3 separate regions of the Homo sapiens genome follow, and all the other regions are linked to region 3. Evidence: fine-mapped expression QTL. A gene starts in region 3. Each other region holds a variant in brackets. All regions are shown on one strand. Distances are between the middles of the regions. Region 1 overlaps KSR2 (kinase suppressor of ras 2). Region 2 overlaps KSR2 (kinase suppressor of ras 2). Region 3 holds the start of NOS1 (nitric oxide synthase 1).

Region 1 (8,429 bases), 210 kb after region 3:
AAGGGAAATATCTCCAATGCCCAGGCACTTAAACCTTGCACTTAGGTTCAGATGTCAAGAACGAGAGCCTGCACATCCCGGATCTGCTAATAGAGTCGGCAGGATTAGACAAACCCTGAAATTACACAGACTCTGGAGACAGAGGGAAGAGGGACCACAGCAAGGTTTTGCAAAGCACACTATGTCCCTCTTAATGGAAACTGTTCTTCCAGCTGGAAATGTGCATCATTTTCCCAAAATGTGGCTTTTCCTTTTCCCTACCCATGGAAGAAAGAGCTACTAGCGTGTAATTTACCAGGAGACCACCTGCTTCAAAATTAGATTCCCAGGCCTCACTCTCCAAGGTCCTGATTGGGTAAGTGTCTTTTGGGAATGCAAATTTTAAGCAAGCACACGTGAAACTCGAGAACTACCATATCAGAGGAATACATTCTACTTCCCAGATGAGAGATGAATGGGAGCCTGAATCTTTCGGAATACAATGTTCTCCTCCGAAAGGAAAATGGGGAAAGTATATAGAACAAACCTAGGTTCAAATCCTGATACCACCACTCCCTGGCTGTGATAACTTGGGCAAGCTGCCGATCCACTCAGAGCCTCAGTTTCCCCATCTGTAAGGTGGGGACAATTGTAGCCTCTTGCCTCTCTGGGTTGCAGTGAGGACTAATGATATAATGCAAGTAAGGTGCCCAGAACAAATATTTGGCACACAGTAGAATCTCAAGCAGCGGCAGGTGCTATCTTTATTATGGTAGTTACCATAATTATTGCTAGTTTGTGCAGCAGCTTTCTACAGCAAGCCCCTAAGATCCTCTGCTGGAGGACTTTCTCTGGCTGGAAACATGGGCTGGCTAGAACACTTGGAGACCTCAACCAACTATAGGTGGGCGTTGGTTGATGGATATTCCAGCCCCCTCTCTCATGGGTGGCATGACCCAGAGGCATGCTCATTTTAGGACTGCACCCCAATCCCCCCAAGCACCTGCTCTTTGATGCACCCATTACCAGCTGCCTTAACTCTCTGTCTCACTTCCCCATTCCTCTATTGGTGTGGCCTGGGATCACCTCTCAAATAAACCACTTGCCCTCACATCCTTGTCTCTGGGTCTGTGGAAACAGGGAGCCCAATTAAAACACCAGGATTATTAACAGAAATTCAGAGCATGAACGTGGCCTTCCCCATGGCTCTCACACCAAAACCCTTGGCTCCTCATGCTGTCAGTCCCTAATGAATTTGGTTCTCCAGGTGCTCCATTCCCGAAGGAGGAAGGGAAGAGGTGAGGTGGACACAACAGACTGCCCCCAGTAACGTGAAAGAAGGCAAACCTCCACACCAGATATGGGCCAGGAGGAGCCCCATGTTTCAAGATGGTGGGTCTGAAGGATTCCCAGGCACCAGGGAAGGTCCTATATGGTTCCAGAAATGGTCAAAAGTTTGCACTTTGCAATCAAGCCGACCTGAGCCTGAATCACAGGTCTGCCCTTCCTGGCAGGGCAAGACAGCATCTAATGAGAGAATGTCTAAGTAGTACCACATAGGCACCAAATAGGTCAACGCTTTAGCAGGCAGGGATATGACCCACTCTGAGCACACACAGAAAAAGCCTGCAAACTTGGAAAGGATTTATTTAAAACTTTCATGGCAAATAGTTAACTTCTTTTTTCTTTTAACTTCTAAGGTTTAATAGGATAAGCTTCAGTTATCAGGAAAAGTTGCTTACGAGGAACATCTCATTCCCCCAAGGGAGTTGCTGGCTAAATGAGACATCATCTCTGTCTGAATATTAAATATGTGAATTTATCTTGAGGGCAGAATCTAGGTCTCCCTCATGTGCTACCTCCCTTTCCTTTCCTCCTTCATTGAAAGGTGCCTGGTGTGTATTATCTGGTGGGTAAGTATCAGAGAGATGGAGGGAAAGAGGAGGAAAGAAAAAGAAGAACAGGCAGAAGGGGAAATCTGTCAAACACTGCAGATTTAGAAACATTCTAATCCCTATCAAAACGTTTTTGAAAGGCTATTTCTATTTCTTATAAATCGTATCCCTCTTTGTTTGTGAAATGCAATGATGCCCCCTCTGCATTTCCTTCTTTCTTCCCTCCCTTCTTCCCAGTGCGGGGCTGGAGGGCAGGATTTGACCAGAAGCAAACTGGATCTCCATGGGAACTGCGGGGGACAAATGGTCTCTTTCACAAGCAGCTCTGCTGTTTTCTTGAAAGATGTGTCATGGCCCCCTGTGAAGCAGTCATAAGCCTAGAGCCTGGCACAGAGCTGGAATCCAAATGCTGGCGTTCACAGGAGGGACAGGCAAGACCCCTCCTAGGGAAGACTGTCACGTCAATTTCTCACTGTTCATTGGGCGATTCTAACCAACGGATGAAAATTTGCTCCGATCAGCTTCGATCTCTCATTTCTCCTATTTTTTCTTGTTCCATGCCAGCTAACTTTACAATAATCTGTCTGACTAGGGCCCAGTCTTTCCTTCCAGAGTGCACATGGAACATTTTAAAAACCTGGCTCCTAATATCCAATTGAGGAAACATTAAACAAGCACAAACTTTGAGCCAGGTGCTAAATTACACAACCCATTTCCCCTGAACAGCAATCTCTTAAGAGGTGTATATTGTTACACCCATGTAATATGTGAAAAGTACTGAACATCTAGCTTTTGTTGGCTTACTTTTGTTAATAAAATAGTGGATATCAGTTTATATATGGCTATGGAATCACAATATTGACAATGAGAATAGGAATAATAATTATTTCCCTTTACCATGTGAGATAAACTGTGTGAAATGTTTTACATATATTTTAACCCTTATTAGATTCTGTTGGAGATAACTTATCTGTTTGTTTACTCTCACTGCAGATCTAATACATTCATTTTGCTCATTCATTCTTCAGAAAACAGAAGTGATAAATCCTCATTGATGTGGCCCCATTGTGTAGTCATGTGTAATCATGTGATATATAATTCTAAGTCTTCTATGTGCATGGCTTTAAAACCTCAATTCAAGTTTCAGACTGCAATCAAGTTTAAGACTTGAAGTTTAAGACTCTTTTTAACTGTTACTTTTCCCCCCAGTATTTTCTTTTGCTTTTTCACTTTTATTTTAGGTTCAGGGGGACACGTACAGGTTTGTTACATAGGTAAACTCATGTCGTGCCACGGGGATTTGTTGTACAGATTATTTCATCACCCAGGTACTAAGCCTAGTACCCAGTAGTTATTTTTTTTTTTTGCAACCTCTCCCTCCTCCCACCCTCCTTGCTCAAGTAGGCCGCCATGTCTATTGTCCCCAGGCTGAAGCGCAGTGGTGCAATCTCAGCTCACTGCAACTTCCGCCCCCAGTTCGAGTGACTCTCCTGCCTCAGCCTCCTGAGTAGCTGGGATTACAGGAGTGCGCCACCACGCCTGGCTAATTTTGGTATTTTTTGTAGAGACAGGGTTTCACCATGTTGGCCAGGATGGTCTCAAACTCCTGACCTCACGTGATCTGCCTACCTTGGCCTCCCAAAGTGCTGGGATTACAGGCGTGAGCCACTGCGCCTGGCCTGCCCCCCTCTTTCTGTCTATGTGTTCTCATCATTTAGCTCCCACTTATAAGTGAGAACATGTGGTATTTGGTTTTCTGTTCCCGCATTAGTTTGCTAAGGATGATGGCCTCCAGCTCCATCCATGTTCGTGCAAAGGACATGATCTCGTTCTTTTGTATGGCTGCATAGTATTCCATGTATACCCATTTTTAAGTCAAGAAGACTGGGGTCCAGTAACAAGCTCAGTCATTCAGATAGTGATGGGCAGAATTGGGACAATTCATCCCTGCATGCCCACAAGAAGACACTGTGTTCCTCCTCTGTGCCAAGGGCTATGCTAGGCACTGGAGGTATAATAATTAAATAAGACAAGAATTCTTTCTTTAAAGATCTTGCAGTCTAGCAAGAAATTTACTGTCCAAGAATGTAAACCCATCTCTTGTGGCTTCAAGCATGAACATCTCTCTACTCATCCTACTGCGCCCAAATTGCCTCTTATAAATGAGCCCAGCTGGATTTGAACCAGATTTGGGGAGCTTATATTGTCAAGAACCGCTCTCTCTGCAGAGGTCCCTACTGAGATCTACTCAAGCAACAAGTATTTACTGAGCATTTACCATGTGTGCCAAGCACTGTGCTGGCGCTAGAGGTTTAAACAGTGAACCGTCCAGAAATGAGATGGCCCTGCCTTCAAAGAGTTTAAAGTCTGGTCAGGAAGACAGGCAGGTAAATAGACAAATAAAACATAGTAGTATGTAATATGGTGTGACAGAAAAGGGCAGAAGGTGGCACTTCAGATTTGAGGGGAGTCAGGGAAGGCTTCCCGGAGGGAAGTGGTGGCTGAGCTGAGCTTGAAAGATAAATGAGAGCCAGCAGAGGTGTGCAAGAAAGATCCAGGCAGTAGCAATGGGGTGCAAAGACATGTCAATGAGTGGGCACATGACCTGCCACGGGGATTGATGGCTCGGAGAAGCTGCAGCTCTGGGCATGAAGAGGGGAGAGATGCGAGGGGACAGAGGAGTAAGCAAACATGGCGCGCGGTCTCGTCATGAAGTTGGATTTCGCCGAGAGCAAGGGGGAGCTAATGAAGGATTTTAAACAGGGAGGGGAATGCTGGCTAAGCATTTTGAAAAGACACCCTCTGGCAGCAGAAACTTGCAATTAAAGGGCAGCAAAGTTCCCCTCTCATTATCTTCCCTACTCTCTGTACCTGCTTTCCTTTTCCAGGTCACTGCATTAAGTGTTCCTGAAGGCTTCTCGCAAAAAAAAAAAAAAAAATCACGAAACCGAATCCTTGCCCCCTTTGCAGCAGGGCTTGGTTCACTGCATACCCCAACTGAGCATTCTGGTCTCATGTGAGTTCCCCTGTGGTCTCTTGTTTGAGCCAATGCTTCTAGAAATGACTCCGTACGCTCCAAGTGCAGGATATCAAAAC[C/A]AAAAGTGCAGGTTCACTGCATACCAACTGAGCATTCTGGTCTCATGTGAGTTCCCCTGTGGTCTCTTGTTTGAGCCAGTGCTTCTAGAAATGCCTCCGTATGCTCCAAGTACAGGATATCAAAACACCCTTTCCCTCACTGCTAACAACTCAGTGGGGTCTAGCTCTTTAGCCTATAGCTAACCACAATACAAATGAGCAAAGGGCGGTAGGAAGTATTGACATATAAATCAGACCTCGGGTTCCAAGGACATCATGAAAAATCACCAGGAACCCCCAGCACTTTTCTCTCCATAAAAGGACACTGTAAGGGAAGCTGTAAATGTATTACTTGCTGTACCCTCCCTCCTCTCCTCTCCCTCGCCTTCCCTGAAAAAGAAGAAAGCGACTGTAGAGTCTTCTTGGCTCTCTGAACCCAGAGGTGTTCATCAGAACACAAAGATCCATTTGTCATCTTTCAATTCAAGAAAGGATGATGGGAGCATGTGGCAGGCTGGGGGAGGGATGAGGAAAAGCTTTGGTCCAGGTTGGAATTGAGACCAAATTCTTATACTCTGTTCTGCTTGTTTAGTTAAAGGGCAAGCAGAGTGACATGTAGCATTTATTGCCGGCCTGCTGTGTAGCCAGCCCTTTGCCCGTGTAAAGCGGTTAAAAGTCTGGGATCGTGAATCTGAGCGATCAGTGGGTTTGAGTAACAGATCCACACACCGTGACACTTCGAGCCGGCTGTTTACTTCTGAAGGCCTCTGTTTCCTCGTCTGTAAAATGGGGGTAATAATAGACCCTACTTTCCATAGTTGTGGCAAGGATTAAATGAGATCATGCATGTAAAGTGTTTAGCAAAATGTCTGGCACCTGGGTGAGCCCCCAATACATGATAGCATCATCATAATTATCATCATCATTATCACATCTAATCCCACCTCAGCCCCCAGTAGAATTATAAGCATCCCTCAGATACAACTATAATTAGACCTAAATTTTTGCTTATCATAGGTAAAAACGCATATATAGGATGATTAACTCCCATTATAATTATTGCAAAAACTGAAGTGTTTCTATTAATAGAAAAGTAAGTTCAAGATTCAAGCTGGTGATCTCTGAAATACTTGCTCATAATTATATCCTGCCAATATCCTGCCTGTTGTACAAACTCCCAAAGCTTCCAGGAACTTCGCAGCAGCTGCGACATCAGCACTCATCATTTCCCCACTTTTTAAGGTCTGGGTAAATTAGTGCAATGGTGGCTCAAACCAGCCATGGCTTACTTCACACTTTTATCTCCTCATCACCTGTGGCTGCAGCGATTTTGCAAAAAAATTGGACATTTTTAGGTAAAATATATTTTGTTGCAAGAACATAGGAGAGCAGAATGCACAGGGCAAGAGAGAAAATCAAGATGTGCTTGGTTTTGCTGTGTTATTTGACATTTTCACTTGGATTTTGATGTGTACAAACCCAAGTGAAAAGATCCACTAACACGGCAAAAGTCAATTGAGAAGTGCATGGCTTATTTAAGTAAAAATTATTAAAGTGACTGTTTACATAAAAAGAAGTAGGTACAAGCATGTCTGGCCAGCCACTGCAGGCAGGAGGAAAGAGGACTCGTATAAAGGCCATGAAAACACCACTGAAATACACTGGAAATCTTGTGCTGGTTAACTCAGGCTTCCAAACACCATGTCTTACCTTACTAGGGGAACGAACATGGGTCTCACTCCTACAGAAGTGGGCAGTAACCTCAACTGGAACATAGGAACATATAAAATGTCTTTAGTTAGTAAAGACCTACGTCTATTGTAAGGTGGCTAACCTAGGCCTGACCGAAGGGTTTCTAGGCACTTGGGAATCTCAGTGCTAAACCTCAGAAAGTCCCAGGCAAACTGGGATGGTTGATCACCCCCTTGTATAATAGGGATTATAATGCCTATATCACCCTATAACTATAGAGTGGATCACCCTGTAGTTCACCCTATAACCTGAAATATATATAAGGATTCACCCTATAAGTTGACTGTTTGAGTAATGAGTCCAAGCACAGGTCAAGCAACTGCAAGTTCACATTCTAAAACTGAATAATGCACACCATAGCCCCATGGCGTAGGAATGAGTAGCTCTCTCCTGGGGGCAGTTTGGACCCCCAGGGAACATTTGGCAATGTCTGCAGACTTTTTTTTTTTTTTTTGAGACAGGGTCTCGCTCTGTTGCCCAGGCTGGAGTGCAGTGGCGTGATCCCGGCTCACTGCAAGCTCCGCCTCCCAGGTTCACGCCATTCTCCTGCCTCAGCCTCCCCAGTAGCTGGGACTACAGGCGCCTGCCACCGCGCCCGGCTAATTTTTTGTATTTTCAGTAGAGACGGGGTTTCACTGTGTTAGCCAGGATGGTCTCAATCTCCTGACCTTGTGATCCGCCCGCCTCGGCCTCCCAAAGTGCTGGGATTACAGGCTTGAGCCATCTGCAGACGTTTTTGATGGTCACAACTGGGAGTGAGGAGGGGGTGCTACTGGCATCTAGTGGGTAGAAACTGTAGATGGTGTTAAACATCCTCCAACGACAGGACAGCCCCCACAACAAAGAATTATCTGGCCCCAAATGCCAATAGTGCCAAGGTTGAGAAAAACTGAAATAAACCCTATAACATGTCTTCCAAGAAGTTGGCTGATTCAGAAAATTCTGAAGGAAAAGCAGAGAACAAGAACTACAGAAAAGGCGAAAATGGGCTAAAATTTTCCAGAACTTCGATGTTGCTTCAACCCATGGAAGCGATTTAGTGGGTCTGTTTCTTTTTATACTTTGCATTCATATAAAGTCGGGTTTTGCAACGAAATAAATGCTGAACAACGTATTTAAAGATTCTAATTTGAAAGAATTCTCAAGTCATTATTATCGGGGCATGAACATATCTCATCACATGGAATGAATGTGTTAGCCTCACTGTGTATCAGAGAGGTTTAGAAACCTTCCTAGAGTCACACAGCGAGGGAGTGGCAGGGCCAGGACCTGAACTCAGCTCTCTCTCTGCAGTCTGTATCCTTGCTGTTGTTTCACTGTCATAAGTTGAGTTTTGTAGAAGCAGATCCTGAAATGAATATTCTTGCAAATGATTTATTGAGGGAGTATGCTCAGAAGAAACCTATTCCAGCCAGGCACGGTGGCTCATGCCTGTAATCCCAGCACTTTGGGGAGCCGAAGCAGGCAGATCACTTGAGGCCAGGAGTTTGAGACCAGCCTGGCCAACATAGTGAAACCCTGTCTCTACTAAAAATACAAAAATTAGCCGGACATGGTGGTGGGCACTTGTAATCCCAGCTACTCAGGAGGCGGAGGCGGGAGAATTGCTTGAATCCGGGTGGTCGAGGCTGCAGTGGGCCGAGATCATGCCTCTGTACTCCATCCTGGGCAACAGAGTGAGACTCTGTCTCAAAAAAGAAAAAAAGAAACCTATTCCATTGTGGAGGA
Region 2 (8,429 bases), 420 kb after region 3:
CACATCTCACAATGTCATAAAGGTTGTTGCAATGTAACCCAGAGCTGAGGGTTACGGAGAGGTTTCCTTAAGGAAGAACATTTGCACTGGGGTCTTGATATGCTTTGGCTGTGACCCCACCCAAATCTCACTGAATTGTAGCTTCCATAGTTCCCACGTATTGTGGGAGAGACCCAGTGAGAGGTAATTAAATCATGGGGGCAAGTATTTCCCATACTGTTCTCATGGCAGTGAAAAAGTCTCACAAGATCTGATGGTTTTATAAATGGGAGTTCCCCTGCACACGCTCTCTCTTGCCCACTGCCATGTAAAAAGTCCCTTTGCTTTTCCTTCGTCTTCCGCCATGATCGTGAGGCCTCCCAGTCATGTGGAATTGTGAGTCAATTAAACCTCATTCCTTTATAAATTACCCAGTCTCAGGTATGTCTTTATTAGCAGCGTGAGAACAGACTAATACAGGTCTGGAGGATGAGTGGCGGTTCATTAAGCAAAGAAAGAGGGACAAGTGTCCCAGCCAGAACCAGTCTGTCCAAAGATGTGATCCACCGGAGGAGGCTCAGAGTGGCAGAGGAGGTAGAGTGCAGATGATGGGGAGAGGGAAGGGGGAAAGTGAGGCAGAGAAGAGGTGGACAAGTCAAAGTGGAGAGCTGAGGATTTATCCAGAGGACAGTGCCATGTGCAATGTCATGGCACCAATGATCACCCCTCACGAACCAAACCCACTGCATTTGAGTTGTAAACTTGTCTGTGTCTTCAACTGGACGATGAATTCCTGATGCTCAGGGACCATGTCTTGGTATCTTCCATATCCTCAAACCATCTGAGCCCCTGGCACAAAATTTACACCAATAAATATTTTACTGGCTTGACCTAAGGAAGCCAACACAAATGAGTCCCCCTAGCAGTTAACCCTCCCTGGCACCCAGCCTGCCTCTGGAGCCCAAACGTCAGGTTGACAATGCTTCCAAAGGATATCTCTAAAAGGAGATGCTGCCGAACCCAGAGATAAAGAACAAATGCAAAACTAAAAATATCCCTGCAGGTCTAAACAATAATTAAACCGTTGAAACTGATAAAAAATCATCGGGTAAAGTGGAACTAAGCATGTTTAGATACTAGCAACAGAGATGTTCATGCTTAACATCGTTCCACCCCTAGTTACCAACCCTGTAGGGCAGTCTGATGCTGGGAGATAGGGTAGCAAATTCGAATTGTTCTGTTGATTATTCTTTCCACATGTCTTTATTGAGTGCATACTATGGAGCAGGTACTTTCTTTTGAGATGCTAGAAGCCTTGGTCAGCTTCTGGCCAATAGTATCTGGACCAGAACTCCCCTCCTGTATCTAGAGTAACTCCTCTCATACTGCAGCTGAATATCTTATTATCAAATGTTAATGAGGAAACTAACAGGTTTTTTTGAGACAGGGTCTCACTCTGTTGCCCAGGCTGGAGTGCAGTGGCACAATCATGGCTCACTGCAGCCTCAACCTTGTAGGCTCAACCGATCCTCCCACCTTGGTCTCCCGAGTAGCTAGGACTATAGGCGTGCACCACTACACTTAGCTAATCTTTTTTATTTTTTGTAGACACAGGGTTTTGCCATGTTGCTCAGGCTGGTCTCAAACTCCTGGACTCAAGTGATCCATCCACCTTGGCCTCCCAAAGTGTTGGGATTACAAGCGTGAGCCACTGTACCCAACCAGAAACAAATATTTTTAAAGTATCTACTATGTGCCACGAACTATGCTAGACATTTTGCGAGTACCACCTCATTGTAATTCTCACAGCAACACTGTGGGGTAGACTCTATTCTTCACAAAGTATATATGAGATTCTAGGGGTCTGTGTTTTACATGTTTTAAGCTACAAACCTCCTAAGTGAAAAAGCCAAAATTTGAACCCAGAGTTCCTCTTATTTCTCGATAAGGGAGAAGTGAGAAAAGTTCAACTTGAGCAAGAAAAAGAAGAAAACAGGAAAGGCTGTAGGGTAAGAATGGGACCAGGACATCTAGACCCCTCCGCCCCACATAGCAACATCCTGTGGGTAGAATGGGGGACTACACATAATAATCGCAAAAAATGCTCATGGGTTTCTAAAAGAAACAACAAAGTAAGATCCATGGTGTTTAAGGATAAAAATGGTTTCACCAAGGACTGAACTTAATAAATATTTACTGAGCCCTACCCTATGTCAATTGCTTTGCTGTCAGCATTCAATATCCAAGGAAAAAATAAAAATGACAATGATCATGATCACCCTTTTTTGGAAAGTGTACCGTGTGCCCAACACTATTCTAAATATTATATGTATATTACCTAATTCAACCCTTACAACGGCACTACAAGGTAGTTATTAATATTTTCTTGATTTCATGGATGAAGGACAAGGTGGATGTAGCCCCTGACCCCAAGGGTCCCATAGTGGAATAGGGGAGATAAGGCAAGCAAGGAAACAGCCTCTGCATCATGTCAACGCATTGAGCAAGGTGCCAAGTAGCACGACAACAGCAATCGGGTGAGGGCTTAGATCCTGATTCACTTATCAGAGCCTCTGTTTCCTCATCTGTAAAATGGGGATAGTGTCACCCACCTCATAGGATTGTTTTGAGGGTCTAGTGATTTTATACTTAAAAAATACCCATCCCAGTTTTGGCTCTGGCCATGATAGAGCAAGCCCACCAAAGCCTATCTTTCCCAAAAATTCTGGGAAAAAAAATGGAAAAGGCAACAACCTGAGGATTCCTACAAGTCAATGACAGCAGGTGGGTAGGGCAGGGGAGTCCACATCTGAAGCATGGCCATTATGGCGGTGGTGAGTTTCCTTCATCTGTCAGTTTTGGCCAAAAGTTGGCAGGATTTAGGAACTGTGCTTTGGAAATGAGGAGTAAACACTTCAGAGTATCCCATATTTCTGGCCAGAGGACCAGGAAAGGAAGATCTGTGAGTAGGAGAGTATGGGCAGAATCCTTGGGGTTTTTATGTGTGTGTGTCTTTTTTCTATCCCAGCCATGTCCCAAAATCAGCCCAGACACAAAACTGCACTCATATGACACAGAAACAGCACAGGCACCAAAGCCCCCAAAAGATATCCCATTCCTTTGGACTGAGAAGCTCAGAATAGAGGCCAATGTTATGTGAATAAGGTAAGGAAGAGTACATGAGAATTTTTTTTAATTTTTTAATAATTTTAACTTTTGTTACGGATTCATGGGTACATGTGCAGGTTTGTTACAGGGGTATATTGTGTGATGCTCAGGTTTGGGGTATGAATAATCCCCATCACTCAGTGATATGGCTTGGCTGTGTCCCCACCCAAATCTCACCTTGAATTGTCATAATCCCTACATGTCAAGGCCAGGGCCAGGTGGAGATGATTGAATCATGGGGGCAGTTTCCCCCATACTGTGTCTCATGGTAGTGAGTAAGTCTCACGAGATCTGATGGTTTTATAAATGGGAGTTCCCCTGCACAAGCTCTCTTGCCTGCCACCATGTAAGACGTCCCTTTGCTCTTCCTTCCTCTTCTGCCATGATTGTGAGGCCTCCCCAGCCACGTGGAACAGTGAGTCCATTAAACCTCTTTCCTTTATAAACTACCCAGTCTCACGTATGTCTTTATTAGCAGCACGAGAACAGGCTAATACAGTCAGGTAATTAGCACAGTACCAAATAGGGAGTTGTTCAGCACTTGCTCCCTCCCACTCTCTCCCATCTAGTGGTCCCCAGTGTCTGCTATTTGCATCATCTTTAAGTCCATTGCACCCATGGGTTTTTTTCTCTCTCTTTTCTCTCACCACTTTACCGCCAATGAGAAGGCCAGTCATTCAGATCTGTGCAACAAGACAAGAGGCTAAAACTCTAACAGAACCCTATCTTTTTGGCCAAAAGAACTGGAGAAAGAGGCCCCTGAAAGCCAGATAATGTGCAAGTTATCTCCAAAAGAAAAGAACTGGAGGAGAGCCCTAATCTGTGTGTGAAATGCTGCCCACACTTGGAATAAACCCTAAGAAGCATGGCAAAGGCTTTAGGAACTCAACTGGCATTGGAGCACCACCTATAGAAGACAAGACAGCACCGACAGTCTGACTCTAACCAGACTACTGA[C/T]TGCTTAAGAAAAACAAAACAAGCAAACCAAAAATCAATATTCTCCAGAAGGAAACCCAGAGTCTCACAAAAATATTCAAAATCTCCAGGAGATACTCCAAAATTGCGTGATATGCCAAAGACCAGGAAAATCCTGACCAATTTTCAAACGCAAAAGCAATCAACAGGCTGGGCATGATGGCTCACGCCTGTAATCCCAGCCCTTTGGGAGGCCAAGGCAGGTGGATCACCTGAGGTCAGGAGTTTGAGACCAGCCTGACCAATATGGTGAAACCCCATCTCTACTAAAAATACAAAAATTAGCTGGGCATGGTGGCGGGTGCCTGTAGTCCCAGCTACTTGGGAGGTTAAGACAGGAGAATTGCTTGAACCCGGGAGGTGAAGGTTGCAGTGAGCCAAGATCCTGCCACTGCGCTACAGCCTGGGCAACAGAGTGAGACTCCATCTCAAAAAAAAAAAAAAAAAAAAAAAAAAAAAGCAATCAATAGGTAGCAACACTGAGATGAGCCAGATATTAGAATTACCAGACATAAACTTTAAAGCAGGCATTATGACCATGCTCCATAAGATAAAGGTAACCACTCTTGAAATGAAAAGATAGCAATTTTCATAGAGAAACAGAAGCTATTAAAAAATAACCAAATGAAAATTTTGGAATCGAAAAATACACTATCCAAAATTCATTGGAAAATGTTCTCATTTACTGGATGAGCTCAATATCAAAACGGAGATGACAAAGGAAAGAGTCAGTGAATGTGAAGTTAGGTGAATAGAAATTATCAAATCCAAAGAACAGAGAGGAAAAAAGATTGATTTCTTTAAAAAAGCCCCAAGGAGCAATTAGAGAATATCAAAAGATCTAACATTCAAAAGATCTAACTGGAGAATTAAGAAGGATTGGTGCAGAATAAAAACAACAAAAAACAAAACAAAACTCTTAAAGACATAATGGCTGAAAATTCCCAAATTTTGTGAAAAACATAAATTCACAAATTCTAAAAGCTCAGCAAACCCCACATAGGATAAACTCAAAGAAAACCACGCCTAGGCACATCATAATCAAACTGTTGAAAGCCAAAGAAAATCTTGAAAGCGGCCATTAAAAAAACAATAATGATGCATTATAGATAAAAGGACAACAACTTGAATGACAGGAGATTTCTTATCAAGACTATGAAAGACAAGTTACTAGAACATCTTTTTTTTTGCAGATAAATTTTGACATTTATTCCATTTTAACAACATTTAAGAAAGAAGTATATTTTTTCAATCGTATTTTCCACTTTTTACTAAGCAGGCATTCAAGCTGTCCCACTCACTCATATATTACCCATGATACTAACATATTTTTTATTTTTTTTATTTTTTAAACTTTTATTTTAGGTTCAGTGGTACATGTGCAGATTTGATGTATAGGTAAACTTGTGTCATGGGAGTTTGTTGTACAGATTATTTCACCACCCAAGTACTAAGCTTAGTACTCAATAGTTCTTTTTTCTCATCCTCTCCCTCCTCCCACCCTCCACCCTTAAGCAGACCCTAGTATCTATTTAGAACAACATCTTTTGGCTGGGCATGATGGCTCACGGCTGTAATCCCAGCACTTTGGGAGGCCGAGGCAGGCAGATCCCCTGAGCTCAGGAGTTTGAGACAAGCCTAGCCAACATGGTGAAACTCCGTCTCTACTAAAAATACAAAAATTAACTGGGCGTGGTGGTGGGTGCCTGTAATCCCAGTTACTCAGGAGGCTGAGGCAGGAGAATCACATGCACCCAGGAAGCGGAGAATGCAGTGAAACGAGATCGCACCATTGCACTCCAGCCTGGGCAACAAGAGTGAAACTCACTGAGGTCGGGAGTTCGAGACCAGCCTGATCAACATGGAGAAACCCTGTCTCTACTAAAAATACAAAATTGGCCAGGCGTGGTGTTGCAAGCCTGTAATCCCAGCTACTCGGGAGGCTGAGGCAGGAGAATCGCTTGAACCCAGGAGGTGGAGGTTGCCGTGAGCCAAGATCACGCCACTGCACTGCAGCCTGGGTAACAAGAGCAAAACTCCATCTCAAAAAAAAAAAAAATTATGTATATCAGCTCTCAGCTCAAACATCAAGCTTCCTTCCTAGACCATCTCATCTGAATTTGTCCCTACCCCACTACTCTCTGCCACTGCCTGTCCACTCAGCACAAGTTTAAAGTGTGTATTTATGTGTTTATATGATCATTGCTCTTCTCCCTTAGAGACTGTAAGGTCTGTGCAGATCAGTTTGGTCTTGTTCAGTCTTGGCTCTGTAGCATCTTGTGGGATACCAGGCACAGAATGGATACTCAAATGTGCATGGAATGAATGAGTAAATGGGTAAATGAGAGATAAGAAGAAAGCCAGTAGGCCAGGAGCAGTGGCCCACATCTGTAATCCCAGCATTTTGGGAGGCCACGGCGGGCGGATCATCTGACGTCAGGAGTTTGAGATGGGCCTGGCCAAGATGGTGAAACTCCGCCTCTACTACAGATACAAAAATTAGCCGAGCACAGCGGCACATGCCTGTAATCCCAGCTACTCGGGAGGCTGAGGCAGGAGAATTGCTTGAACCCAGGAGGCAGAAGTTGCAGTGAGCCGACACTGCGCCACTGCACTCCAGCCTTGGCAACAGAGCGAGACTCCATCTCAAAAAAAAAAGAAAGCCAGTTAATTGGTTGGTCAAAGCAAAGTGCAAATATAGTTTAGGAGTGGAAGGGTAAGTAAACCACGTGGCTAGGCACAAGAAGGAGCTTTCAGATGAGCAAAACCACTGGACTCACCAAAGCAGACTAACCAGAAAGACTGTGTGATCTCCCCCAGATCTTTATTAACAGGATGAACTGCCATCTGTCTCAGATAGATGAAGTAGAGATAAACTACACCACACCAGAAAATTCTTGAGATACCTTTCAACTCAATAATAAACATTTGCTCTTTGTAATCACTCTTTGAAACTGTACGTGGGAAATAAGCAATTTTAAAGAAGCAATTTCTAAATACTTCACTAGCTAAAAAAGTCAGACCATGTCTATGGGATGGGAACCAGAAAGGAGAAGTCTTGGAAAGAGATGGAGAATGAACAGCTGTCTTCCTGCTGCTGTCAGGCAGAAGGTGAATTAGACTTGTTCTAGGAGGTTCCAGGACTCAGAGGTAAAACCAAGAGGAAATTAAAGGAAAACAGATTTAGCTTACTGTAAGGCAAATGCTAATAGTTACCAAGATCTCCTCTGAAACAAAAGAAATGAATGACTTCATAAGGTCAGCAACTCCCTGTATCTAGAAGACTTGGAGGAAAGGCTGAATAACCAGAAATTTACAGAAGGTAACTTCAAATTGTCCACTTGCTGGGAGATTGGACTAGATCTGTGTTTTCCAAACTGTACCATGGGATATGAGTCCTGAAAGGAAATCTGAAAAAGACTGCATGCTATAACCCTCCCCTGGAGATTAAAAAAGCACATTAGCATATTATAAGCTTTGAAAAATCCTGCAGGTAGGACTTGAGCTCCAATGTTGTACAGAACACTTTTTTTTTGAGACAGAGTCTCACTCCATTGCCCAGGCGGGAGTGCAGTGGCATGATCTCAGCTCACGGCAACCTCTGCCTCCCAGGTTTAAGCATTTCTCCTGCCTCAGCCTACCAAGTAGCTGGGATTACAGGTGCGTATGACCACGCCTGGCTTTTTTGTTTGTTTGTTTTGTATTTTTAGTTGAGACAGTGTTTCACCATGTTGGCCAGGCTGGTCTCAAAATCCTGACTTCAAATGATCCACCTGCCTTGGCCTCCCAAAGTGCTGGGATTATAGGTGTGAGCCACATTGCCCGGCCTCCAGAACACATTTCAAATGACCTGGACTAGAAGACAAAGCTGATCTTCTCAAGTTGAATATTCTATGATTCTCTCTCCATTAAAAAGGAAGCTCTAGGCTAGTGGATCTCAAACTTGAGCATGTATCTGAATTCCCTGGAGAGCTTATTAAAACAACGTTAGGCTCCACCCCTAAGTTTCCCATACCTGGGATCTGGGGTGAAGTCTGAAATTTTGCATTTGCAACAAGTTCTCAGGGGTTGCTGTTGCTGCTGGTCCAGTGATCTCACTTTGCAATTTGTCTAGACTTGGAGATTAAGAACGTTCAGGGTTTGAAAAACTTGAAGTTGCTAAACTTCGTACATCTCACTGCAAATTAGTCTCCAAGCACCTATAATTCTGACCTTTTCTTCTCACTCCGTAAAATGGTAGGTGGATGCCTTCTGTAAGGCAAAAGAGAAATCTGATCCTTAATGAAGTAGATACAGTCTGCAAAGCC
Region 3 (8,429 bases):
CAGGTTTCATTAGAATGGGGCTCACACCACCTTTATCTGGGCACCTGCCCTTGGGGTCTAGCACTGGCCTTGCCATTTAACACGTGTCATGACACATACAATAAATGTGCTGACGTCTGCTGCCGAACAGCCCACGATAACTGCTGTTCATCCTTAGCATCATACGACTGTGCCAAGACCCATGTCCACTATACCCTGTTAACCATACTTGAATTAGAGACTTAGGGGCACTTTCTGTTGACACGTCATTTTCATTTAAAAGATTCGAATGGGCTCAATTTTCCAGCATTGCCAGGTGCTGCTCATCATTCTTCCACCTTAAGAATGGGCATGTGAGCAACATAAACACACTTGCAAAGGCTGAGTGGAAGGCCGATGGGCTGTGGAAATGAACTCAAACCAATGGCTTTGGTGAAATCAGTGGTAGTTAAACTGGGTTTATTAGCTCTGTGATTACTTCTTTGCAGAAGTTATACCTGATAGGTCACTTATAAAAGGAATTTTTCTAGGCCTGGCGTGGTGGCTCACACCTGCAATCCCAGGACTTAAGGAGGCCAAGGCAGGCAGATGGCTTGAGCCCAGGAGTTTGAGTCTGGCCTGGGCAGCATGACAAAACCCCGTCTCTACAAAAAATACAAAAATTAGCCTGGTGTGGTGGCACAGGCCTGTAGTCCCAGCTACTCGGGAGGCTGAGGAGAGATGATCATTTGAGCCCAGGAGGTCGAAGCCCCTTCCCTCTGAAAGGGAGAGATCAAATAGTGGGGCTAATGTCCAAGATTAGATGGGAACTCAGGGCTGACACCCAGCAAGGTCAAGGTGGGAGGAATTATTTTCAGTCTCCTCTGAGCAGTTGGTCTAATTTAGAATAACAACCAGAAAGATGAAATTAAATTTCTTTAAAGTCCGGCATTTACGGGGCTTGTACTGAAGGAAACATGAAGTTATCATCGATGAGGATTGGACAATAAGTCAAGACACTGAGGTTCTATCCCAGCTTTGGCAGTAATGTGCTGTGTGACTTTCATCGAGTCACATGCCTCTTCTGGGCCTCAGTTTCCCAATTTGTACAACGAGGGTGACAGACAAGAACTGAGAGTATTAGAATCTCCTGGAGCAACCTTGTTAAAAATAGAGATATTTCCAGTCTCCCCCAGGAATGCTGATTCGGTAGATTTAGGGTGGGGTCTGGCATCTTTGCTTTTAACCAGGGACTTGCTGTATTCTGACACTAAAGGTCCACTGGGCTGATGTTTGGCGTTCGCTGGATTAGATGATGTTTAAATGTTATCATATATTAGAACGAGGAAAATGGTCATGTCTGTAACCTATGTGGTGTTAACTACACAAACCCACACTGATCCATGGCAGGAAACATGCCCCTCTGTTCAAACAATCCAGATTAAAATGGGTCCTGAAATGCCAAATTCAACTTCCACAAATTCCAGTTTCTAATGGGAAAAAGCCCCAGTTCTCACGAGCACGGATTGTTGCCTGTGGCTCTTAACCACATTCCAAGCCCCGCACAGACCCACAGAACCTGAGTGACAGGCAACACATGAAGTCTTGTCATAAGACACCCCAAAACATCTGCAGATTGTGAGCGCAACAGGCACAGCCAAACCTGTCTGTGCTCACAATATGCAGGCGAATTGACCTCCAAATCTTCCTGCCTCCTGGGAAATCAGCGGCCCCCCAGTGGGGAAGTTTCTGGACAACTGACTGAATGGTACCTCGGACAACTCTTTGCATCTTACTCACAGAGACCCACTGGGAGCAGCCTAACCCATCACAATACCCCCGCCCTCTCACTCTTCTCCGTGCGGTCCTTCCCCAAGGAAGATGGAGGCTCCTGGGGACTGGCTTTGGCCATTTGGGAAATATAAAGAGGAGACAGAAAGGGCAAAAAGCGGGCTGCTCTGAAAGCCACGATGACACTATTGGCCCCAAATGGCTCCATGGGACACTCTTCCCTCTGTTTCGGGTTCCCTTCCTTCCTTACAATCACCAGTCTTGGCATACCAGCATTGTTTCCAGAACCCCTTTCACATACATCATCACAGAGTCTTCAAAACAGCCCCGTGTGGGAGTTACTGTTCTCATTTTACAGATAACAGAACTGAAGCTCAGAAAGGTTAAGTGATCAACCTGAGGTCACACAGCCATGGAGTGAGCTAAGCTTGGCCTCAAGCTGAGGTCTTCACCAGGTCTCTCTACCACACTGCTCACTCTTTCTCTACATGATTTGGGACTTTGGGGAAAAAAATCACACAATTTGTGGAGACAAAGCCATGCCCCTGACCATAGCGTTGGCCTCTGGCTGAACAGATGTATCAGGAAATACAGCTGTGTGTGCTAAGGTTCAGGCACATGCCAGACTGCGTAGATGCCCAGATGCATGCAAAATGCCCCAATTAAGAAGCCGAAAATTGGGGTTGAGGTCTCGGGTAGTGCCACTTACCAGCTAGGTGACTATGGCTAGGTAGTTTGGTTTGCCCCACCTCAATTTCCGCAGCTGCAAAATGGAATTCAGATGGCTGCACTGGCAACCTGAAAGTTAAGAGGCTCCAGGTGAATAATACGTGTGACAGTGCCTTGGAGCTGTCAGTGGCAGAGCCGTGCGCCCCTCAGGGCGCTTCTGAAATCCAGACTAGTGGAAAGGGGCCGGGGCCCGCCGTGGCGGTGCTGGTGGGGCGGACACCCCCTCCTTCAGGGACCTGCCGAGGCTTCTCAAACCATCCGCTGAGATGCCTTGAGGGCGGAGAATGGACGCGACCCCTGCGCACTTGGGGAGCTGCCACAAGAGCCCTTTTCCTATTTTATCTTCAGTTCTGAAAAAATAACGGGGGAAAAAATCTATGCTCCAGAGAGCTGCGTCAGTGTTCCCTGGTGTTTACGAATTTCTTGCGTTTGCCCCGACCCCAATTAGAGAAGCACTAAAGAAAGGCAGCAATTTTCCCTCATTCCTCTCGGGAGGAGAGGTCTGGGGTCTCCTTTCTGCTGTCTCCCAATGTCGTGGGCCGCCAGAGGTGAGATGAGGCGCCTATGGGCGCGCTCGCCTGCACCGCACCCTTGCCTAGCGGCGTCCCTGGGGACCCTCCCTCCGTGGTGGCTGCGTGCGCGCTTTTCTTAGGCCTGAGCGCAGGGTTTGAGCTGGGCTATGGGAGTAGAGGGAAGAATCCCATGCGTCTTTCCCAGGATTACTGGGGTAGAGATGGAGGCGAGAGCAATCTTCCGCAGCCTGTAGTACCCTGTGGGGTAGACCCCCCGGTTCCTACTGGTGGGGAAACCCTAGACCTGCGTGCGAGTCTCCCAGATCCGGTCCCAGAGCATTACAATAATGGTTTTATATATATATATATATATATATATATATATATATATATATATATATATATATATATATCAGCAACACTTCCTGCGTTATGAACGCTTACCCTGACTTCATATTCACATTTATGATTTTTTAAGGTCCTCATGACAGCCCCACGAAAAAGGTAGTTTCTCCATTTTACAGATGAGAAACTGAGGCTGGGAAAGATGAAGAGACTTACCGAAGGTCACGCAACAAGTAAAGGGTCGATCTAGGACCAGAACCCAGGGGAGTCACTGGAAAGGTTCCTGCCCTCCTCGGCTGCCTTCTCCGTGAGAGCCTCTCCTCTCTAGATGTCTACCCCAGACAGCCTGATGCGGAGCTTGGAGAGCCATGAGCTCTCTGGTCACAGTGCCCTGGGGGTGGGGGCGAGCGTCTGGCGTCCTCTGGGGCGCAGTCCCGAGAGAGCCCCTTCCGGGACCTCGGACGCAAGGCCCCTGAGTGGCCCTGGAAGTTGGATCCCCCGGGGACCCTGCTCCGAACCCTGGCCACCTGGAAGCAACCTCATCGAGCGCTCCTTCCACTGCCCAGCCCCGAACCGTGGCGGAACGCGCCCCTCGGCCTCCCTAGAGCCTCCTTTGCGGGAGAAGCACAACTTTCCCAGGTTTTGGAGACGGCGCTCTTACACCCCAATCTCGCCCAGACGGAAGAAGTGAGAGGTGCGGGCGGCCCCGCCATGACCGCGGGAGGAGAGCGCAAGGAGGCTCCTCGCAAAGTTGGAGGCCAGGCCGGAGCGATGTTCCGGGAGCGGAGCCCTCCCAGCCTCGGGCCCCCAGCCGCGGACAGCTGGCAGTGCCAAAGACTCCGCCATTACCTGCGGCTCGCAGTTGCGATTCGGCCGCAGAGTCGGGCACCGAGGAAGGCGTAAAGTTGAGCTTGGGCAGGTACAACGGTCCCCAGGGACTGGCATCCCCCAGCCCGGGCTGCCCGCGGGAGGGTAGCGAGCTGTGCCAAGGGCTCCGCCATTACCGCCAGCGCACAGCTCGGAGCCAAGCGCGCGGCTGAGGAACGACTAGGGTCTTGCAAAGTTGGAGCCTGGGCGCGTAGACCCCCGGACCGGAGCCCCCGGCCTGAGGCCGCCCGCTAGGAGGAAAATGAGGCCGCCCGAACCAAGTTGGGACGCGCAGCAAAGCCCGAGCCTTCCGCGCACACCAGGGGCTCGGGCGGGAGCGGGGAGCCCTGGGGACGGAGAAGGGGCGCGGGACGCCTGGATCAGGAACTCACCTGACGCCGAGCCGGGCAGCGCCGAGGCTGCCTCTTCGCGCTGCGCACCCGCCCGCCCGCCTCGTACTCCTCCTCTTCCTCCCGGGCGCCCGCGGCCGCCGCGCTCCGGGTTCTGAATCCTCCGAGTCCGCCGCCCCGCGCGGCTGGAGGGCGCCGGTTGCACCCACTCGCCTCCTGGTAGGAGCCGCGCGCGTCCCTCCCCTTCCCCTCCGCTTTGTGCCTCCAAGATCCCTCCCCACCCCCTCTCCCCTAGCCCCCACTCCTCCCTTCTCTTCTTCCCTCCCCTTGCGTCCCCTCCCTCAGCCTCAGCGAACCCAAGTTCGGGACGGAGGCTGCGGGCTTCCCCGGCGCAGTGCTGGGCGCCCCGCGCGCGCCCCTGGCTCACCCCGTCCGCTCGGCCGCTGCTCGCTGCCCGGCCGCCCCTCGGAGGAGCCGCGGCGCTAAGTAGCTCCTCACCCAGCGGCTGGAAACGCGGCATAAATATGTAGGGACTGAGCCGTGAGCTCAGCGAGGGTCGTGAGGGGGAATTTATTTCTTAATGTCCCTCCTTTATCCTATCATCACTGAAACGAATTAGCAGTGACGTCCAACCCGACTGGTTTATGGGTGTGGGGAGGGAGACGTCGCAACCCTCATTAAAAGAGCCGCTCTGGGCTCCAAAGCATACATCTTTTATATAACCTAATTTCCATTTTTTTTTTTCTATCAGGAAACACACACACACACACACACACACACATACACACACACACACACACACACACACACACACAATGACAATTTCTGGGAGCCTGGATAGGGCTGAATGTAGTAGCCACGCAGGGCAGGGCAGGTCTATTTGGGCAGAGAAGGCCCCATGGGAGGCAGGGATGGTTATTTCTGCCTCTACATCAGTGTTGGGATAGCATTCCTTAATGGGACAGTGGAACACACAGCCTCCCAGGCTGGGCAGTGCTGGGAGCCCCTCCCAGGAGCCCGCAGAGGTTGCAGCCTGGGTTCTGGCCTTGGCTCTCGGGTGGACAGACGGAGAAAAGCAGCCTGTTCAGGAAATGTTGCCTGGTTCTGGTCTTTTCTGGAGCCACACTCAGGCCTGGCATCTGGGGAGAGTGAAGGATGGAGGGCACATGTTCATCTGTGGCCTGGGAGCCCCACAGGTGTGGAGAGGCCAAGGTCTGGGCTGGAGGAGGGAAGACACAGAGAACGCAGCTTCCCTTCCTTTCTTAGGGGCCCTAACATATGGGTAACCATATAAACCCGACTCAAAATCTGTCTTTTCCTGGGCAGATTGCAAAGGATTTTGCATCTCCCCGTTGCTGTTGCTGCTGCTCACACAGTCTTGGGAAAACGGGGGAAAATCAAGGAAAGAGAGGACACACACACGCGCACGCGCACACGCGCACATACACACACACAAACACACACACACACACACTTGGCACCTGGCTCTGGGTGATTTGATCTTTTCCTCCTCCCCAGCCTTGCCAAGCGGAGCAAACCCACTCAGGCTTCGAGTTGCGCAGAGAAGAGGCAAAGAGGAAAACCACCACCCCCTTTGTCACTAATAAATGCTTTTCAGATCGTCTTGCACATCCAGCAGGGGAGGGGGTGTGTGACTTTGGGGGCAGGAAGAAGGGTGTGGGGGATGAGGAGGGGAGGAAGGAATAAAGAATAAGCTGACGAGGGTGCCTGGAGGTCTATGCTGTCTTCCACATGCTGGAAGGAGGCCTGGAGAAATGCCACCAGCCCCAGGGCTCTGCCACTTCCTGGCTGCCACAAGGGCAAGTTTCAGAGCCTGTTTCCTGAGCCATGGATGGGCCTGGGGATGTCGTGAGGATATACACAATGAGATGATGCTGGTGAAGCCCTTGACATGGTGCTAGACATATAGTAAATGCTCAGGAAACAGTTGCCAACAATAATGGTGATTTTGATGATGATGAGAATAATCCAGCATACAGGCTGGATGGGGGGTGGGTCCCAGAAAATTGAGGCTGGAGCTGAGTCCTTGCAGTCTGGTCCCCTCCTGTTTTGGGTCCAGCGTCCCTTGCCCGAACCATTTCAAAGTTGAGCGCTGGGTTTCAGTGGTGTCATTCTCAGAACACTGCTCCCTCAATTACCATGGCAACTGGGGAAAATCAGGAAGCTAGGGGAAGGGAAGCTGCTCTTCCACTGGGCTGGCGGTTCACCTGCTCAAAACAGAGTCCACGTCTGCCTATGTGTGGGTCAAGGCCAAAAGAAGCTCAGAGTAGGGGCACTTCCTCTCTGGGAGCACAAGCTTTTTTGAAATTGGGGAGAAGGGTGGTTGGGAGGGGATGCACGGCCACGAGATGGTGGAGATAGTGGGGTCGGGCCAAGGCTGGCTGTGCCTGCAGAAGGCAGAGTTGGCTTGGGTTTGGGGAGAGGGGGACAGAAACCCCACTCCCCTCAGTTCTCTCCTCACTTCCAGGTGCCCTGGTGCGATTAAAAGCAAAGCCTTAGAATGTAGCTCTTGAGACAGAGATCTGGGAAGACAGAGCCTCAGAGCCCACGGGTGGAGCCAGGGACCATGAGGTGCCCTCTGTGTGTGTGTGTAGATGAGAGACGAAGACAGACAGACAGACACACACACACACACACAAACAGAGAGAGTCAGAGAAGAGAGAGAGGCAGAGAGATTTATAGACAAAGAGAGAGACAGAGACAGCAGAGACTGGCAGAGACAGTGAGAGACAGAGATAGAAAAACACACAGAAAGACTGGCAGAGAGAGAGAGATTGGCAGAGACGGAGATAGAAAAAACACACAGAAAAAGAGAGAGACGGAGAGATTGACAGGAAGACAGAGACTTATTGGCAGAGACAGAGAGAAAGACAGAGAAAACAGAGGGAGACAGATTGGCAGAAAGAGAGTAAGAGAAGAGAGAGGCAGAGGGATTTGCAGAGAGAGAGAGACAGATTGGCAGAGACAGAAAGAAAAAATACACAGAGAGACATATTGGCAGAGAGAAAAAGAGAGACAGAGTAAGAGAAGAGAGAGAGGCAGAGAGAGATTGGTAGATTGGCAGAGAGATTGGCAGAGAGAGAGAGAGATTGGCAGAGAGAGAATGGCAGAGACAGGAAAGAGAGACAGAGATACAGAGAAAGACGGACAGTGACAGACAGAGCCAGATACTTCCCTTCCCTCCCTCTGGTGGTTTCCCCAGGATTAACGGGAACTATGGACAACACTAGTTGCGGTAGTAAAGAGAACAATGGCCATCTTCTGTTGAGCACTTCCCATTTTGCTGGTTTTGAGCCACGCATTTAATAGGTATAACTCACTGAACCATCATAAAAATGGTAAGAAATGACTCCCTTTCTTATTCCCATTTTACAGAGGGAGAAAATAGAGGCTCTGGAGGCAAAGTGACTTGCTCCAGGTCACCCAGGTAATCTGTGGTAAAGCAGATATTAGAACTCGGGACCCCAAAGTGGAGCTTTTCCTGCCTCCTCGCCGCTGTCTTGTGGAGAAAGAGGGAGAGGGAGGATGTCAGAGCCATCTGGGGAGTGTCTAGGGTTTGGGGAGAGTGGCTCCTGGTGTTTGGGGACCCCTACCACATGAGTACGGACAGTGTCTCCAGAGATCCCCAGCAAGTGGAGGGAAGAGACTTTTACCATCAACCAGGTGGCCTTGGGACAGTCCCCAAAATGCCCCTTGGGTGTAGTGCCTTGGAAGCTGCTCTGGGCTGTCACAATAACCTGATTCCACCAGGACCTCTCTGGGGTTCAGGGGGAGATGAGGGTTGTGCCACCCTTCTCTCGAGCTATTGGAAGATCAAACCAGCTGAGACCCATCCAGGCATCAGCGTAGGGCAGGC

Evidence for each region. PIP is the estimated chance that this variant, and not a neighbour inherited with it, causes the effect.
Region 1: its variant is fine-mapped to the expression of NOS1 in thyroid (GTEx, PIP above 0.99).
Region 2: its variant is fine-mapped to the expression of NOS1 in substantia nigra (GTEx, PIP above 0.99).

The regions. Positions count from the first base shown.
Region 1 is chr12:117,562,866-117,571,294 of GRCh38, forward strand. All of the region lies in intron 7 of KSR2 (kinase suppressor of ras 2), which reads right to left. Among named protein-coding and RNA genes, the nearest start is that of NOS1, 210 kb to the left of the region's middle. The variant C/A (reference allele first, on the strand shown) is at 4,971.
Region 2 is chr12:117,780,863-117,789,291 of GRCh38, forward strand. The region is part of intron 3 of KSR2 (kinase suppressor of ras 2); the gene reads right to left. Among named protein-coding and RNA genes, the nearest start is that of KSR2, 180 kb to the right of the region's middle. The variant C/T (reference allele first, on the strand shown) is at 4,105.
Region 3 is chr12:117,356,533-117,364,961 of GRCh38, forward strand. NOS1 (nitric oxide synthase 1) reads right to left here and starts at 5,094. Exons shown (of 29, transcript NM_000620.5): 1 at 4,980-5,094. RefSeq lists promoters at 4,595-6,872, 4,595-4,755, 4,980-5,052, 5,219-6,140.